Homo sapiens: one gene and its partner. The protein of the gene in region 2 purifies or fractionates together with the protein of the main gene of each other region. This does not show direct contact. Each region holds a gene or a part of one and is shown on either strand. Other genes may lie near its edges.

Evidence for each region. Proteins that work in one complex are often made in the same cells at the same time.
Region 1: the proteins of TRPV5 (region 2) and ANKMY2 purify together in Homo sapiens (affinity purification with mass spectrometry; one large-scale study listed by BioGRID and IntAct). This does not show direct contact.

What each region holds. Positions count from the first base shown.
Region 1 is NC_000007.14:16,621,596-16,625,254, forward strand, and holds part of ANKMY2 (ankyrin repeat and MYND domain-containing protein 2), read right to left. Parts: intron 3,487-3,659; coding exon 3,388-3,486; intron 1-3,387. UniProt on the Homo sapiens protein: May be involved in the trafficking of signaling proteins to the cilia.
Region 2 is NC_000007.14:142,909,683-142,913,341, reverse strand, and holds part of TRPV5 (transient receptor potential cation channel subfamily V member 5), read left to right. Parts: intron 1-591; coding exon 592-860; intron 861-3,659. UniProt on the Homo sapiens protein: Constitutively active calcium selective cation channel thought to be involved in Ca(2+) reabsorption in kidney and intestine. Required for normal Ca(2+) reabsorption in the kidney distal convoluted tubules.

The sequences.
Region 1 (3,659 bases), about 130 Mb from region 2:
ACTTATGTAACTCCTGGTCAAGAGGCCCACTTTTAGCAAAACAAGAAACACGGAAGCTATAAAAGAAAAAATATGACTACTTAAAAATAAATTTCCTGCCGGGCACAGTGGTTCATGCCTGTAATCCTAAGGACTTTGGGAGGTGGGACGATCACCTAAGGTCAAGAGTTCGAGACCAGCCTGGCCAACATGGCTAAGCCCCATCTCTACTAAAAATACAACAATTAGCTGGGTGTGGTGGCACATACCTGTAGTCCCAGCTACATGGGAGGCTGAGGCAGGAGAATCGTTTGAACCCAGGAGGTGGAGGTTGCAGTGAGCCGAGATTATGCCACTGCACTCCAGCCTGGGTGACAGAGTGAGACTCCATCTCAAAAAAATAAATAAATAAATAAATAAATAAATTTCCTATGGTAAAGGTCTCCATAAAGTTAAAAAAGAAGAAGAAGAAAGAAGGAAGAAGAAGAAGAGGAAGAGGAGGAGGAAGAAGAGGAATAAAAAGAAGAAGAAGAAGGAGGAGGAGGAGGAAGAGGAGGACTGGCATAAAATATTTGAAACACATTTGTTAGATAATGGATTTGTATGCATAAAGCTCCTCAAAGCAATAACAAAGGGCATCCCCCCACAAAAAAATGAATAAAGAGTATAAGTGGGTAATCCACAAAAGTGAAAATACAAATTACCAACAACAGAAGTGCTTAATTTCATAAATAATGAGGGGAAAGTAAGTTCACAATGTACCATCTTTTTAACTATCAGAGTGGCAAAAATCAAAGAATGGTAATACTCAGCTCTGATGAGGATATTACTGTGAATTACTATGCCCTTTTGGAAAGGAATCTAGACTTACATTAAAATTAAAACTCTAGGCTGGTCGTGGTGGCTGTAATCCCAGCACTTTGGGAGGCCGAGGCGGGCAGATCACAAGGTCAGGAGTTCAAGACCAGCCTGACCAACATGGTGAAACCCCATCTCTACTAAAAATACAAAAAAAATTAGCTAGGCGTGGTGGCGCACACCTATAATCCCAGCTAGTTGGGAGGCTGAGGCAGGAGAATCACTTGAACCCGGGAGGCGGAGGTTGCAATGAGCTGAGGTTGGGCCACTGCACTCCAGCCTGGGCGACAGGGCGAGACTCCATCTCAAAAATAAATGAATAAATAAATAAATAAATAAATAAATAAATAAATAAAAATAAAAACTCTATATCCTTTGTCTCAGCAATTTTACTTCTAAGAAATACTTTAGAGATATTAAAGTTCTAACATGTAAAAAATATTCAAGTACTAACTTGTAAAACATAGAAAATCAAGGATGATTATTACATTATTTGTAGAAAAGTGGTTAAAAAACTGTAAAATCTGTCAATAAGGGAGAGCTAACTGAACTGTGGAACATCTATATCATGGAGTATCATATAGCTGTTGAAGGAAATGAATTACACCTACTGAGATGGGAGGAACTTCCATGATGTATTAGTAAGTGAAGAAAACAAGCTACAAGGAATATCTGCTGTGTGATGGGTGGCATTTTTAAAAAATGACAAAAATCTTATGTATGTATGTACGCATGTATACATACTGATCCACTTGAAGGAAACAAAAAGGGGAGAATGAGCTTTTTTAAAGGCTAATTATTTGGAAAATACAGTAACAACTGGAAGGGTGCAATGTAATTTTCTGTCTGTGAAATCAGTTAAATATATTAAAATGGAATGAAAACATTACTCTTATTTTAGGATAGGATTGCAAACAATTTTTACTGTAGTAAAAATTTTGTTAGTATTGTAGTGTTAAGAAAAAGAAAGGAGCATTGTGTTAATGCCTGAAAGAAGAGACTCCTCCATTTCCAGACCTGTGATCTTGGGAAATTTTTTTACCTGTATCTGAGCAATATTTTGTTACATTGTGGATATAATGAAAACTTGTACAGTTAAATAGAAGTTCAGAGATCACCTAATTCCCCTGCTTCTTTGCATACAGATCAGAAAACTGAGGCCTATGGAGGTAAAGGAATTTGCCCGTGATCCTATAACTAATTATCAGCACACATGAACTAAAGTTCAAGTCTCCAGATTCCTACTTTAGTGTTCTTTCCCCCTGCAGTGACACCCTCAAAATTAGCTCAGAACTGAGATGGGGCAACTTGGGGCCTGTACACACGGGAGTTAAAATATTTCTCCGAAGCTTACACAAGGCCATACCTTTCTCAAGTCCTTTTGAAATGAAAATAAGGATACTTCTTCTAACAGAAAAAGCTGTCATAAAGCAACTGAGTGTCTGGCTTAATCAATGGCAGCTTCTATTAGTAGTTTCAAGAAAATGTTCTAATAAAATTTAACATAATATTCAGTTACTATCCTCCACACCTAATTTACACTGTATCTGAACCTGACTTCTCTCAAAACCCCCTTGAATTGGACAGATCCTCCTCTTCTATGTATTTTTATGGAGCTCTGAAGTTCTACCTTGGAGTATGTGTTTTCGCACCATTTGTCATTGCTATTACCCTTTAAGTGCCAAGAAAGTATGAACAGCCTGTCTTGTCACTATAACCAAGACACCTACAGTGATGCTTGCTTTATAGGTTGTGAACATTATTTGTTTAATGAATTATTAGTCCCTATACGGCCACTTACTGCACTCCCAATAAATCAGACGTTGCTCTTTGCTTTTCTCTCAGTGGACTCTCTTCACCACCAATTCAATGGTGTCAAAATACCAAAGAACAAGAATTCACTCCCACTCTTTCCTTACATTATGTCAAGCAATAGGATTAACATGCCAAGAATTATTGGGCACACAAAATAAACGTCTGTGGTTGATGAGAATGATAACGAAGTAGTTGTATATTATTATCAAGTACTCTTTCCTAAGAGTTATGTCATTGTTGTAATAATTATTAACAACAGTAACTAATACCATTTATTTAGTGTTACATGGAAAGTTCAAGTCTATCACCTCTTTTAATCCTCACAATAACCCTGTAACATTTTACCATGAGGAAACTGAAGGTCAGAATTATTAAGTACTTTGCTATCACGTGGCACAGCCAAAATTTAACTTGGGATTACTGACTTCTCGGTTAGCATTCTTAAACATTAGGGTTAGCTACTTCCATCAGAGACATAAAATATACATGTTATAAGCATTTGTGAGCAATTACAATGGCCCCACTACTCTTTGTATTTGAAAAAGTGGAAATTCGAAATAGCCATTTGTTTTCTCCAGAGTCACTAGGTGTTTCATTAAGTTACAGTGGACTGTAAATACTTAAGTTTTTTTAAAGCAACATGATAATATTTTCACCATGAGAAGCAAAGTGGGTTTTTTTTCCACAAGGGAAATTTTGGGTATAATCTAATGCAAAACTGCAGCAAAATCTCACCCACAAAGGCTGCCATCTGAGCTGCTGTTCTTCCCACAGAGTTGACAACATCTGTCTCAGCACCAGCTTCTAACATTACCCATGTGATGTCTTTATTACCTAGAGTTTTAAAGGGAACACATTTGTTAATGTTAAGGAGGACACAATTTAAACATCCCTTTCTAAACTCTCTATACCCTTTATTCCCCCAGTTAGTTTTAGGTTTCTGTCATGTGGATATTTTCATTCTTTTAAAACATGAATCCTAACTACAGTAAAGAATAAAATGCTAT
Region 2 (3,659 bases):
AGTCCAGCGCTGTCCTGAAGTTCCCTTACGCTCACTGCTATCCAGTAGGCTCCACCCTAAGCAGGAATCCGTTTCCTATGTTGGTTCAGGTTCACTCAGGGAAGGTCAGAGTGATGGAGGGTTATCTAGAGGCCATCAAGATTAAAAAAGGGGCTCTTCTTTTAGCCTGTTCATGTGTTCTGTTCTTTAAAAATTGTTGAGGATTCCATACATTCTTGTAATAACTTGCCTTTTAAGTATTTGGTTTTCTAAAATGCAAAAACCAGTTAGGTGACCTATTATCCATTATCCATACAAACACACACGCTGCACACACAATTTTGTTGTTGTTAAATGACTATTACCATGACCATTACCCAGAGTGGTGAACTTAATCATAGGACATCTTAGGGTTAGACAGTTCCACAGGAAACTACATTTATTAGTATGTAATTATCTGTGCATGTGTGCAAGTGTATTTAGATAGATAGATAGATAGATAGATAGATAGATAGATAGATAGATCAGAGATAGAATAAGTGCTAACCATGTCCATGCTTATTGTGATAACTCCATTATCCCATCTCCATGTCCTCTTCCTGGGCGGAGCAGCGTTCTATATCATTTTCCAGACAGAGGACCCAACCAGTCTGGGGCAATTCTATGACTACCCCATGGCACTGTTCACCACCTTTGAGCTTTTTCTCACTGTTATTGATGCACCTGCCAACTACGACGTGGACTTGCCCTTCATGTTCAGCATTGTCAACTTCGCCTTCACCATCATTGCCACACTGCTCATGCTCAACTTGTTCATCGCCATGATGGGCGACACCCACTGGAGGGTGGCCCAGGAGAGGGATGAGCTCTGGAGGGCCCAGGTGAGTTTATTTGTGTTAGTCTTGCTAAGAAGCAGGGGTTGGAGAGAAAAATCAAAGTGGAAAATGTTATGGTGGATCATTCTTAAAAGAGTCACAGAAAAACCCAGTGAGGCTGTCACCTCAGAAGAGGTTTGTGTAAACCTGAGGTACATGTGGATAAATGGAAGGGACAGAAGGAGGATTAAATGGACGATAGTGGCAAGAGGTGGGGTTGTTGCTCACAGGGGAAAAGTAGACCTAGGATTGATCCTTGAGTCCAGTGGGAACTAGAAGTGACCTTGTTCTGGTATATTCCAGTTTTCAATTTGGATCTTATCTTCTATTTGCTTCTGTAAATCCCTGTTTCTCTATGATCTTTTCTTTATATCACCATAGACTGATAAATATTAGAATTAGAAGTGACCCTCAATGGCCCTCAAGTTGACCTCCTACTTAACATAATAATCATTTATTGGTCAGAATGTCATTCAATATCTTCTCTAATGCTGATTAGTACCTTATTATCTTGCAAATTCAGGTAGAGGTTGGGAGGAAGGGAGTTTTCCCATATTTTTAAAGATTTTGTTATTAGACATTTATGTCGCATTGAGCTAAAACCTATCTTCTTAAAATTTCATTCTTTGGCGCCAGTCTTTCCCTCTCATATATCACAGAACACATTCTTCCATATAAGCACCATTCAAATATTTGAATATAGCCATCATTTTTCCCTTAGACTTTTCATTCATTTAATGATGATCATTTAGACCCTGCTATGTGTTGACAAATGCCTAGGAGCTAGGGACATGAGCATAAACACAACAGACACCATATGTGCCCTCATGGAGCTGACGGTTTAGTTGGAAAGACGGGCATGAAGTGAATGACTTCACAAAAAGCTGTAAAATTACAGCAGCAAAAGTGCTATAGAGAATGTAAGGTGCTAAGAGGAGGATACAACAGAGGAATCGGACTGGGAAGTGAAGACATGCTTTCCTGAGGGAGCAACATTTAAGATGAGAACCCAAAGGTGAGCAAGAACTAGGTAGTTAAAAGGAAGGAGGGAAAAGGATGAAGGTCAAGGTTAGTAGCAATTAGGACTCTTGGCTACAGGGACAGAAAACCAAACTCAAACAGACTTGCAGATTTTTAAACAGGGGGAAGAGGATGTGTTAGTCCTCATAAATGGGAAGTTTAGAGAATTAAACTAACTTTAGAGGTATCTGGCCAGAATGCAGATCCACATCTTATACATTACATCCATTCCTCTGTTCGGCTCTCTTTTGACCTCTCTTCTAAGGCAAGCTCTCCCATCGTGTTTGTGAGATCATTTCTAGAAGCTCCAAACTCCAAAAAGAATGAGGATGTGCAATGCAACACGCAGCTCCGAGGGCCCCACTCACGTTGTATTCTGTGAGGCTCCTGGTGCCAGGCAAAACTGCAGGCTTTAAAAGAACATCTTTCCCCCTGCCAATTCCTTCCATGTTCCATCTCATGGGAACACATTCGGGTCATAGGCACATCGTTGAATCTAAGGAAAGACCAAGGACTAGATAGTGGAGGTGTTGGTGATGGTGGTGGAGGGGAGGTTTGGGGGAAAATAGATTAATTAAGCACAACTGTGTGAAGCCCAGTCCACTCAAACCAATGCACTAAAAGTGATGAGGGAGCAATTCCCTAAATGAAAAATGGGTGCTGTTACCCGAGGAAGGACGGGGCTGCATGATGGCTCAGGAGGAACAATAAACATTTCTTTCAAGGCAAAGAAGAACAGCTATCCAGGGTAAGAGCACAGAATGACTGGAAGTCCTGAGCTAGGAGGGAACTTGGTGCAATTAAGAAACTGAAAGAAGTGTGGAGTAATGAGGAAGATAGGGAGTAGAAAAACATGAGGTGAAGAATTTGCTATTTTGAAGATTGCACTCCTTCAATTAGGAAGCCTTCCTGGTTCTGATCTATTCTGATTGCACCCTTTTGTCCATGCTCTAATAGATCATGGTTTCTTTGAAACTAGAATAGTCCCCAGTATGATTAGGGCAATGCGGTACAAAGCGGGACTATGCCTTTCCTTACTTGGACATAATGCTAAGGGTACCTAAAGCTGAGTCAGGTCTTTTAGCAAATATACAAATGGCCCTTATTAAGCTTGTGATCAGCTAGCACTCCCACACCTTTGTTCTATGACTCACTTATCTAAGCTTCCTAAATGTAAATATAGGACCTTAGATTTGGTTTACTTAAATTTCTTGTTAATGATTTTACACCAGCATTCCAATCTAGCGAGATAATTTTATATTGCTTCTGTTGCCCCACATATTACATATCCCTCCCAGTTTTGTGTCACAGGCATATTTGATAAGCTTGTTTCCCATGTTTCATCTAAGTAATTAATGAGGGCTGAGCAAAGGACAGAACGTGTGGTGGACTTGCTACCAGAAATTTCCCTGCCAACTTGCAGTCATTAATCAACCCTTTTCCTTCCTAAGATGTGGATATTTAATTTGCTGAAAATTCCCTGAACAGTAACAGTATCAATTCATCCCCAAGATCGTAGAGATTCTCTTTAATCATTTTATTTAAATCGAGATAATTGGTCTGTGGCTTTTATATGAAAAAGAAGTTGAGATTAGTTTGGAGTGACTCATTCTCCATGAGTGAATAGTAATGTAAGGGCAACTATTTTATTCAAAACACTCACAAAAAATCCTCTCTCATTTCTTGATGAGTGAAGCTGGTTGCATGGTGCCTGGCACAGGCTGTGGGGTGAATAGGTGGCTGTTCTCACCACTGACCTCTAGTGTCCTATCTCACAGATTGCCT